Linked DNA regions of Homo sapiens: region 2 is linked to region 1. The links come from fine-mapping of genetic effects on gene expression. A gene starts in region 1. The other region holds a variant in brackets. All regions are shown on one strand. Distances are between the middles of the regions. Region 1 holds the start of AGO4 (argonaute RISC component 4). Region 2 overlaps AGO4 (argonaute RISC component 4).

What was found. PIP is the estimated chance that this variant, and not a neighbour inherited with it, causes the effect.
Region 2: its variant is the best candidate, but not a certain one, in a credible set for the expression of AGO4 in T cells (TOPMed, PIP 0.85).

Annotation. Positions count from the first base shown.
Region 1 is chr1:35,804,668-35,810,040 of GRCh38, forward strand. AGO4 (argonaute RISC component 4) reads left to right here and starts at 3,349. Exons shown (of 18, transcript NM_017629.4): 1 at 3,349-3,768. The coding sequence starts at 3,750. It overlaps CLSPN-DT (CLSPN divergent transcript), which reads left to right. Exons shown (of 3, transcript NR_199050.1): 3 at 2,078-2,273. RefSeq lists enhancers at 56-105, 2,523-3,022, 4,122-4,401 and silencers at 3,232-3,441, 3,722-3,971.
Region 2 is chr1:35,857,668-35,863,040 of GRCh38, forward strand. AGO4 (argonaute RISC component 4) reads left to right here. Exons shown (of 18, transcript NM_017629.4): 18 at 1-223. Among named protein-coding and RNA genes, the nearest start is that of AGO1, 23 kb to the right of the region's middle. The variant T/C (reference allele first, on the strand shown) is at 2,928.

The sequences.
Region 1 (5,373 bases):
GTCATGGCTTCTCAGCCACAGCAGGAAGTGGAGGGAGGGCTTGCTGAGCAGGCCAAGGTTTAGAGGAGTTTATTGACTACAGAAATTTGGTTTGGGAGGGTTCTGTAGGAATAGTTTTTGGAAAAGGAACAGTGGGTGTTTGAGTGAGAGTGAGTTTTGAAATGAGAAGGTAGATGATCAGAGTAATCAAGAATCACTCTGTTGAGTGAGACATTTCGGTCCCAACTGGAACTATGGGGTGAATAAATTTCATACTTCAGCCTCTAAAGCTAGTGGAAAAACTATTTTCAGTCCAGGGAACAAGCTGTGGTCTCTGCTCAGGGTAGCAAATAGAATATAGAGAAATTTTGTTAGGAAGTGGGGTTGGGAGAGTCAGCCACAAACCAGGCTATTGGAGACACCGGCATTGTTTAAACTGTAGGTGGAACTTAGCGTGAAGTGAAAAACTTGAACTTTAGTTGGTTTTTCTTTTTTTTTTCTTTTTTTTTTTGAGACGGAGTCTCGCTCTGTCGCCCAGGCTGGAGTGCAGTGGCCTGATCTCAGCTCACTGCAAGCTCCGCCTCCCAGGTTCACGCCATTCTCCCGCCTCAGTCTCCAGAGTAGCTGGGACTACAGGCGCCCGCCACCACACCCGGCTAATTTTTTGTATTTGTAGTAGAGACGGGGTTTCACTGTGTTAGACAGGATGGTCTCGATCTCCTGACCTCATGATCCGCCTGCCTCGGCCTCCCAAAGTGCTGGGATTACAGGCGTGAGCCACCGCGCCCGGCCAACTCTAGTTGGTTTTTCTTTTCTTAGCTGTGCAGCAGTCTGATCGTTTAGTAAATACTTTCTCCCCTTTGAACATTCTGTCCCCTATTACTATTTCCAGTTACTATCTGGTTTAACAGAGAGGTAGCATGATGCTGTGAAAAGAATATAGAGTATGGTGGCCGGGCATGGTGGCTCACGCCTGTAATCCCAGCAGTTTGGAAGGCCGAGGCGGGCGGATCACGAGGTCAGGAGATCGAGACCATCCTGGCTAATATGGTGAAACCCCGTCTCTACTACAAATACAAAAAATTAGCCGGGCGTGGTGGCGGGCACCTGTAGTCCCAGCTACTCGGAAGGCTGAGGCAGGAAAATGATGTGAACCCGGGAGGCGGAGCTTGCAGTGAGCCGAGATCGCGCTGCTGCACCCAAGCCTGGGCGACAGAGCGAGACTCCGGGTCAAAAAAAATAAAAGAATATAGGGTATGGTATCAGTAGACAAGAATGTAGGCACTAGATTAAAAGTCCCAGTTCCGGCCGGGCGCGGTGGCTCAAGCTCGTAATCCCAGCACTTTGGGAGGCTGAGGCGGGCGGATCACAAGGTCAGGAGATCGAGACCATTTTGGCTAACACGGTGAAACCCCGTCTCTACTAAAAATACAAAAAAAAATTTAGCCGGGCGTGGTAGCGGGCGCCTGTAGTCCCAGCTACTTGGGAGGCTGAGGCAGGAGAATGGCGTGAACCCGGGAGGCGGAGCTTGCAGTGAGCCGAGATGGCGCCACTGCACTCCAGCCTGGGCGACAGAGCGAGACTCCGTCTCAAAAAATAAAAAATAAAAAAATAAAAGTCCTAGTTCCATAGCCAATCAGGGAGAGAATTAGCCAGGACTTAAATGCAAGATTTGAACTCCAATTTTTCCCATGCTTCACTTCAGCATCATGTAATGCAAAGCCCGACTTACTTAACTTCCCTGAGCTTCGGTGTCATCATCTGTACAAATACCTTTCTTAACAATATCTACCTTACTGGTGGTTGTAAAGATTGAGTGACAATGAGAAGCCCATAGCAGAGTGCATGGCCAGGATGTGATGCTAATATTTTTTATCATTACATAAAAAAACTACCTGGCTCTGTGACAGCACATGGCAGGTGCTCAAATGAATATCCCACCACACATGCTAGGGGCCTAAATTATCCCCCACCCCAATAATTTGTATATTGAAGTCCTAACTCTAGCACCCCAGGATGTGACTGTAATTGGAAACAGGGTCTCTGAAGAGGTAATTAAATTAAAACGAGGTCACTAGAGTGAGCCCTACTCTAATAGGACTGCTGTCCTTATAAGAAGAGGAAATTTGGACACAGACGTGCACAGAGGGAAGACCACGTGAAGTCACTGGGAGAAGGCCACTATCTACCAAGTGAAGGAGATAGGCCTCAGAAGGAACCAACCCTGCCTACATCGTATCTCTGACTGCCAGCCTCCAGAATTGTGAGAAAATAAATTTCTGTTGTTTAAGCCACCCAGTCTGTGGTACTTTGTTACGTTATGCCGTAGCAAAGGAATACAACACACACACACAAACTCATCGTACCTTTTCAATTGGTGGACAAGGGGCTCCTTCCTTCTGCTGACTAGAAACTGCTTCTTGGCCTGTTGTCCAGTGTTCTCCCACTCAAAGTCCTTACTGAAAGCCCTAAAGATGCTGTGCCTGCTGGGCTGACCATGCTGCCTTGGAGGTGGTGCTGCTCCCTTGGCTTTTGTCTGCTAAGGGGAAGGCATCCAAGAAAGCAAGACCTTTCTCTCTCTCTCTCTCTTTTATTTTTATTTTTTTTTTTTCAGACAGTCTTGCTCTGTCGCCCAGGCTGGAGTGCAGTGGCCCGATTTCGGCTCACTGAAACCTCTGCCTCCCGGGTTCAAGCGATTCTCCTGCCTCAGCCTCCCAAGTAGCTGGGATTACAGGCGCCTGCCTCCACGCCCGGCTAATTTTTTGTGTTTTTAGTAGAGATGGGCTTCCGCCATGTTGGCCAGGATGGTCTCAAACTCCTGACCCCAGGTGATCCACCCGCCTCCGCCTCCCAAAGTGCTGGTATTACAGGCGTGAGCCACCACGCCCGGCCAAGACCTTTCTCTTCTAAAGTGACTGGTGATTTGCTGACCAGAGGCGCTTGTCATGGGACCAGGGAGGGAATGCATCATTCATCAGGGTCCATTCCCGTGGTGCCTTCCGGCTATACGGAGAGGGACGCGCAGTTGGGTGTGTGGTGCTGAATGAAGGGATGAAGGAGGACTGCTAGCGTCTAAGGTGACCCTAAAAGACGAGATGACAGAAGCGATCTGGGGTGGGAGGAGGGAGGAGGGAGGCGAGGTGGCTCCTGTGAATCTCAGTACACTTTCCACTCACAGAAGTGGAAAACTGAATCTGTGGGTCAGCGGAACTGGAATCCAGATCTTTTGCAGGACGCCCTGGGGGGATGGCACGTAGCCCCCAGAGCCGTTGGCCACCGGACGGCCTCCTCGGGTGGACGGGGCAGAGCGGGCCAGCGGGCGCGTGCCCGACACGTCCACCGGGCTCTGCACCCTCCGGGCGCGCGCTCGTTCCCCGACCCGCCTCGCCGCCTGCCGGGCTCTGTGGACCCCGCGCCCGGGGCCGCGCACGCCCCCTCCGCCCGCCGGGACCCTGGGTCCGCGCACCCCGCGCCCCCTTCCCTCCCGGCGGGCGCGCGCGCTGGCTCCCGCTCCCGCTCCCGTTGGCGGCGGCGGCGGCGGCGGCGGCGGGGATTGTTTTTGTTGTCGCTGAGGCCGGAAGAGCCGGAGCCGGGTCCCTGTCCCCGGGCCGGGCGCCGCCGCCGCCCCCTGCCCAGCGCCCGCGTCTCCGCGGCGCCACCCCAGCGCCAATATTCCGGAGATCAAGCGTTACGCGGCGGCGGCGGCGGCGGCGGCGGGGCCCGGAGCGGGAGGCGCCGGGGACCGGGGCGAGGCGGCCCCCGCCGCCGCCATGGAGGCGCTGGGACCCGGTGAGGAGCGAGCTCGGGTCGGGGCGGGACCCGGGACCCGGGACCCGGGGCGGGCGGCCGGGACTTTCGCTGCCCCGTCGCCTCGCCGGGTTCGGGCCGCCAGGCCTCGGGGAAGGGGACCCGAGCCCCGCAGCACGAAGCGGAGGGAGCTGACCCGGGCCTGGGGGGCGGTGACCGCGCCCCAGCCGGCCGTTGGGTGGATCCCGAGGTCCAGGGGGGAGGTTCGGGAAGGTGACCGGCGCTGCCGGGCGGAGGCCACTCTTGGCCCCACCTCGGGGAGACGATATGTGCCCGGGGTCGCGACGAGGGTAGTTTGGGCCTCAGAAGGGGGCGATCCGCTACCCAGTGCGCGCGGAGGCCTGGCCCAGACCGGGAAAAGGGCCCCGCTGCCTACTACCAGCCGGTAGTCCTGGTTTGGGGCCGCGCCCCTATTTTTCTTTGCACTGGCAGATGGTCCAGAGCCTTCAGATGAGGAAGAAGAACTTCATCCAAACACCTCTCATGATCTCTGAAGGTCAAGGGACAAAATGCCCACCCTTTCTGAAAGGCCCTGATGTCCCAAAGAACATGGTCCTGTGCCTCTGTCACTCAGTCTGTGTGTTAGTCTCAGAGTGGTCTGAGCCAGCCTTTGAGTGACACAGGAGTTGCCAGTCAGTCTGCTCCACCACAGGCTTCAATGCCCTGAGTTCTCTTCTAATTGGGTTATGAGTGGTTGTGAGGATCAAATGAAGGAGAAAGTGCTTTGGAAACTAATTTGTTGTGGATATGGATGGCCTCTGGTTATTTCTCTCTATCCAAACCAGAAGAACCATTCCAGGCTGTAACAAGTGTCCTGAGTATTGGGGCCTGGTGCTTCCACCTCAAAGCCCAACAGGTTTCTAATGCCTTGGCTAAGTAGCTCAGTGTTTAGGGGCTGTGGTGGAATTCACTTTAATATTCAAACTTTACCTACATAATGAACTTAGTCGTAGAGTGTTTCATCTTTTTAGTGCGTAGAAAATTCGAGTTGCCATTTGAGTTTGGAAACTTGGCACGTTTGTTTACTTAGCACTTGTTTGCATAGCTGAGTGATTAAGCCCCACCCTAATTTGCTTCTTAAAGTATTGTTTAAAGGCCCTCATAATCAAATTTCATATGCCTTTTAAAAATAAATTGGCTTGCCGCATTAATATTGTTTGATAAACTTCAGTGTATTATGCCAGGTTAACTTCAGATATGTCCCCTGGCTAAAGACATGCTCAGGTCTTTAGGAATGTAACAGATTCAATCTAGTAATGTAATAGTTGTATGACCCTGGGAAAATTACTCAATTCCTTTGAACTTTCATTTTCTCGTCTATAAATTGAGGGTAATAATAAGTATGTTCTGTAAGATTGTTGAGAGAATGAAATGAGAGTATATGATAAGTCTTATTGTAGAGACTAGTGCCTATAGATGCTCAACAGATGTTTCTTCCCTCCCCCTAGTAATTCATAATTGAAACAACTGTTGCATTTATGATCTGATATCGAAAGAAATTGTGTAACTGTGGGCATAAACTGAATTTCATGGAAAGGATCAACCTGGTGATATTAGGCACTGCCCAGGGACTCTTTTTTTTTTTTG
Region 2 (5,373 bases), 53 kb after region 1:
GTTGTTTTTCCTGTCAATTGTCTAATAAGTATGCAGTACACTGTAATGGCAACATACATGGTTGCTTTATAAAAACAGTTTCCTCAGTATGAGAAATTTTACAAAGAACAGTGGAAAAACTTTGTGTTTTTAACTCTTGGGTCTCCCTATTTTTAAAAATTGCTATTTGGTATACAATTATTATGTGTCAATTAAAACTAAAATAAAACTTTTAAAAAAGAAATTTCTATTTGAGAATTTTAGAAGAGCTTTTCAGCAACACTTCACTTATGAAAACTTTTACAAAATTGATCAGAGTTCTGGATATGGCTCTTAATGGGAAGATCTATTTAAGCAATGCTTGAGAAGAATCTGCAGTCTCCAGAGGGCAGTGTGGCCACACACTTTATAAGACTTAACTTCTCCAGAGGAGAAGCTGCTCAAATTCATCCAACCTGGGGCTATCCAGTCTCATCTTTAGAAAAATTCTCACCAGCAAGTCCTTTTGCTAAGTCATGGCAGGGACAATTCCTTAGGGAATTTATAGTTTGCCAGAGGAGAAAGTTCTGCATATAACTCTACTAGAAGGCGGTTGTTTTTTCCATCTGTATACTATCTCCACCATATTTATCAGTTATCAAACATTTATCATGAACTGGGTACATGCCATGTACTGCCTAGGTGCTGGGAACACAGAAGAGTAAAAAATTATTCAAAGAATTCATTCTAATTTGGCATGAGATGGAGGAAGAGGCAGCGAGATTAACACTGAGTGCCTACTATATGTCAGTCACTATATTTATTTATTTATTTATTTATTTATTTATTTATTTATTTATTTTTGAGACGGAGTCTTGCTCTGTCGCCCAGGTGCAGTGGCGCAATCTCGGCTCACTGCAAGCTCCTCCTCCTGGGTTCACGCCATTCTCCTGCTTCAGCCTCCCTGGTAGCTGGGACTACAGGGGCCCACCACCACGCCCGGCTAATTTTTTGTATTTTTAGTAGATTTGGGGTTTCACCGTGTTAGCCAGGGTGGTCTCAATTTCCTGACCTCATGATCCGCCCATCTTGGCGTCCCAAAGTGCTGGGATTATAGGCGTGAGCCACCATGCCCGGCCTATTTTTTTTATTTTATTATTATTTTTTAAACACAGGGTCTCACTCTGTCACCCAGGCTGGAGTGCAGTAGCACAATCATAGCTCCCTGCAGCCTTGACCTCCCAGGCTCAAGCAATCCTGCCACCTCAGCCTGCTGAGTAGCAGGGACTACAGGAGGTGCGCATCACCATGCCCTGCTAATTTTTGTATTTTTTTGTAGAGATGGTGTTTTGCCATGTTGCCCAGGCTGGTCTCAAACTCCTGAGCTCAAGCGATCCTCCCGCCTTGACCTCTCAAAATGCTGAGATTATAGCTGTGAGCCACCGCACCAGGTCTGTCAGTCACTTTCTATTGATATCTTTATCCCAGGAACAGAGTGTTGCTGGGCATTGTATCAATACTGCTTCAACTCCAAGAATTTTTCCTTGTAAAATTAAAGGAAAGATCTTGTTATTGATTAGTCATTTTATAGTCAGAAACCATGGGGTAGTTGGAAAATAGAAAAAAACAGTGTTGCTGGGATAAAGATATCAATAAAAAGTGACTGATAGGCTGGGTCAAATGCTTTCCCTTACTCCTTCTTTGGGAGATAGGATCCCTCTTTATTATAGAAAATTTGTTGTTGTTATTATTATTATTATTGAGATGGAATCTCACTCTGTCACCCAGGCTAGAGTGCAATGGCGAAATTTTGGCTCACTGCAACCTCCGCCTCCCCAGGTTCAAGCGATTCTCCTGTCTCAGCCTCCCAAGTGGCTGGGATTACAGGTGTGTGCCACCACACCCAGCTAATTTTTGTATTTTTAGTAGAGACGGGGTTTCACCATGTTGGCCAGGCTGGTCTCCAACTCCTGACCTCAGGTGATCCACCCACCTCAGTCTCCCTATGTGCTGGGATTACAGGCATGAGCCACCGCACCCAGCCAGAACCCTCATTATTTCGTATGATTCACGTGTGTCCAAATGGCCTTATTCCCACCTCACCCCCCACCACTTGTGTCATACTCATGTCCATCCCTGAATTTCTCGGGGATGTGTTACATCAGTCAGGAATGGCTTGTGGGCCCACTCCACCGTCCTAGGGGGACGGTGGCCAGTAAGTAGGGGAATGACAGACTGATCAGCACCATCACAAGGCGTGTGTCCGTTTTGTTTCTCTCTTTCTTTTTCTCTGTCTCTTGCCTCTGATTTCTTCTGTGTTGACTATTCTCCAGAAGCTAGTGGCAAGTCTTTTTTTTTTTTTTTTTTTTTTTTTTTTTGACAGGGTCTTGCTCTGTTGTCTAGGCTGAAGGTGCAGTGGTGCTATCATAGCTTACCGAACCTCAAACTCCTGGGCTCAAGCGATCCTCCTGCTTCAGTCTCCTGAGTAGCTGGGACTACAGGAGTGTGCCACCATTCCCAGCTAATTAAAAAAATAATAATTTGTAGAAATGTTGCTCAGGCTGACATTTTTTACGAGACAGGCGCTTTAACCAACTAAGCCATAGAGCCACCAGGCTGACATTTTTTAAAGAGATGAGATCATGCTATGTTGTCCAGGCTGGCCTCAAACTCCTGGCCTCAAATGATCCCCCGTCCTCAGTTTCCCAAGTAGCTGGGATTATAGGGTGCGAGCCACCATGCCCAGACAGTGGCAAATCTTTAAGGAGAAGGACAAAATCAGGGGTAGGTGGGCTGGAAGAAAACTAGCAACTATATTACAAATTGAAGAAGGAAGAAAATAAATTTAGTTTAACAAACATTTCTGGAGTTTCTATGGCATGCTAGGAAACAAAAATGAAAGACAGAAGTTAAAAAAAAAAAGATCATGATATGTTTGAATTACAAGTAATCTTAGTAATTTTTGATTA[T/C]AGGGGATGAGGGAGGAATTGGACCCAAGGTAGGCACCAAGTTCTGAAAGGACAGGACAGAAGTTAAATGGCATTTTACGGAGTTTAGAGTTTATCACATAGGTACAGGGGAATAACAGACTCTAATCTGTGTTAATTTTGCCAGCAGTATTGTGAGTAGGTTGAAGCTGAAGTTCTGCTGAAGAGAAGTTCAAGTTTTATTGCAATAGCCAAGCAATAGATGATGAAGCTTGAATTTGAGCAATGATACTGCCGTTGAAAGAAGGAACGAACACGAGGTAGTCAGAAAATAGAAAAAGCAGAACTTGGTGACAAAATGGATACACAGAGTGAGGGAAGGAGGCAGACTCATTAGGAGGGCTCCCAGGTTTCTGGCTTGGGCAGCTGGGTAAAAAATAGTGCCACTGAGAGAATGAACAGAGGAGAAGCAGATTTTTAGGAAGGAGGAAGGTGGTAAGTTCAGTTTTGTACAAGCTGGAGATGAGAGCTGATGCCTATGGAATGGAGAAAGAAATTGGAAGCCATAAATATATAGGTGGTAATTAAAACCATTCAAATGTGTGCCCAGAAAGATCATGCAGGCCAAGAAGAGATGAAAAACAGACAGTCCTAAGGGGACACAAATATTTAAAGGGTAGACAGAGGAGAGAGATGTCTAAAGGAAATAAAACATGGATGGCCCTGCGCAGTGGCTCATGCCTGTAATCCCAGCACTTTGGGAGTCCGAGACGGGCAGATCACGAGGTCAGGAGTTCAAGACCAGCCTGACCAACATGGTGAAAACCCATCTCTACTAAAAATACAAAAATTAGCTGGGCTTGGTGGCAGGTGCCTGTAATCCCAGCTACTAAGGAGGCTGAGGCGGGAGAATCACTTGAACCCGGGAGGTGGAGGTTGCAGTGAGCCAAGATTGTGCTGCTGCACTCCAGCCTGGGCAACAGAGGGAGACTCTGTCTCACAAAACTAACAAACAAACAAACAAACCCCATGGACAAATGGATAAAAAAGAACAAGTTGTCTTAGAAATCAAGGGAAAAGAGCATTTCATCAAGTATGTACAGGATCGGCTATGTAGGAGTTAGCTGTGTGACACTGGGCAAGTTAACCTCTCTTAGCCTCAGTTTTCTTATTCGTAAAATGGAGATAGTACTAGTACTTACATCCAGGGTTGGAAGGATTAAATGCAATCATACATGTAAAGGCTTGGAAACACATACACATAAGCTACAAAGAAGGAAGTGGCTAACTATCCAATAGTGATCTAAAAAGACAAAATCTGAAAAGTTTCCATTGGAATTTGCAGCAAGGAAGTTATAGGTGACCCTGGTGAAAGCAATGTCTGTGGCTGGAGAAGGAAGAAGGTTGACTATAGAGATCTGAAGAACCTATAGTACTATAGTTGGTAGGTTGGATATAAAGGGAAAGAATGAATTCTGATATTAGCTGGGGTGGGAAATGGTTCGTTTTTCAGAATGGGAGAGATTGAGCACGTTTACACACTAGGGAAGGAGTCAGTAAAGCAGGAGGAATTGGAAATACTGGAAAGAGAAAAGACGCACAATAGAGGGCAAAGCTGAAGGAAGTTGGAGGGAATGAGATCTGATGTACAAGTGGAAAAAAACTAGAAGAGGAAAGTGCGAGAAGACTATTGCCTTTTCTAACTTTTTTGACGTATACATATAGTAAAATATACAGACCTTAAGTGTGGAGCCCAACTTGTCACAAAGCAAAGACATCCATGTAACTTCCACCCAGATTTAAAAACAGAAGCCCTCCAGGACCCCTTCTGAGTCACTACCTGAACCTATTCTGGTCAAAGATAACCACTATCTTTTTTAAAAACAGTTTTTTGAGGTGTCATTGATATAGAAAAGCTGCACATATTTAATGTTACAATTTAATGGGCTTGAACATATGCATCACCATAATCAAACATATCCACTGTCTTGACCTGGGTGTGATGGCACAAGTCTGTAGTCCCAGCTACTTGGGAGGCTGAAGTAGGAGGATCTCTTGAGGCCAGGAGGTCAACACTGCAGTGAACTGTGATGACACCTGTGAATAGCCACTGCACTCGAGCCTGGGCAACAGAGTGAGACCTTGTCTATTAAACAACAACAACAACAACAACCAAACAAAAAGGCCGGATGCAGTGGCTCACGCCTGTAATTCCAGCACTTTGGAAAGTCAAGGTGGGTGGATCCCTTGAGCTCAGGAATTTGAGACCAACCTGGGGAACGTGGCAAGACCCTGTCTCCACAAAAAAATTAAAAAATTAGCCAGGTATGGTGAGGCACACCTGTAGTCTCAGCTACTCTGGAGGCTGAGGTGGAAGGATCGATTGAGCTGGGAGGTCAAGGCTGTGCATGAAAAAAACAAGAACAAAAGCAAAACAACACTATCTTGATTTGTCGCACCGCAGGCAGTTTTGCTTGTTTTGAATTTA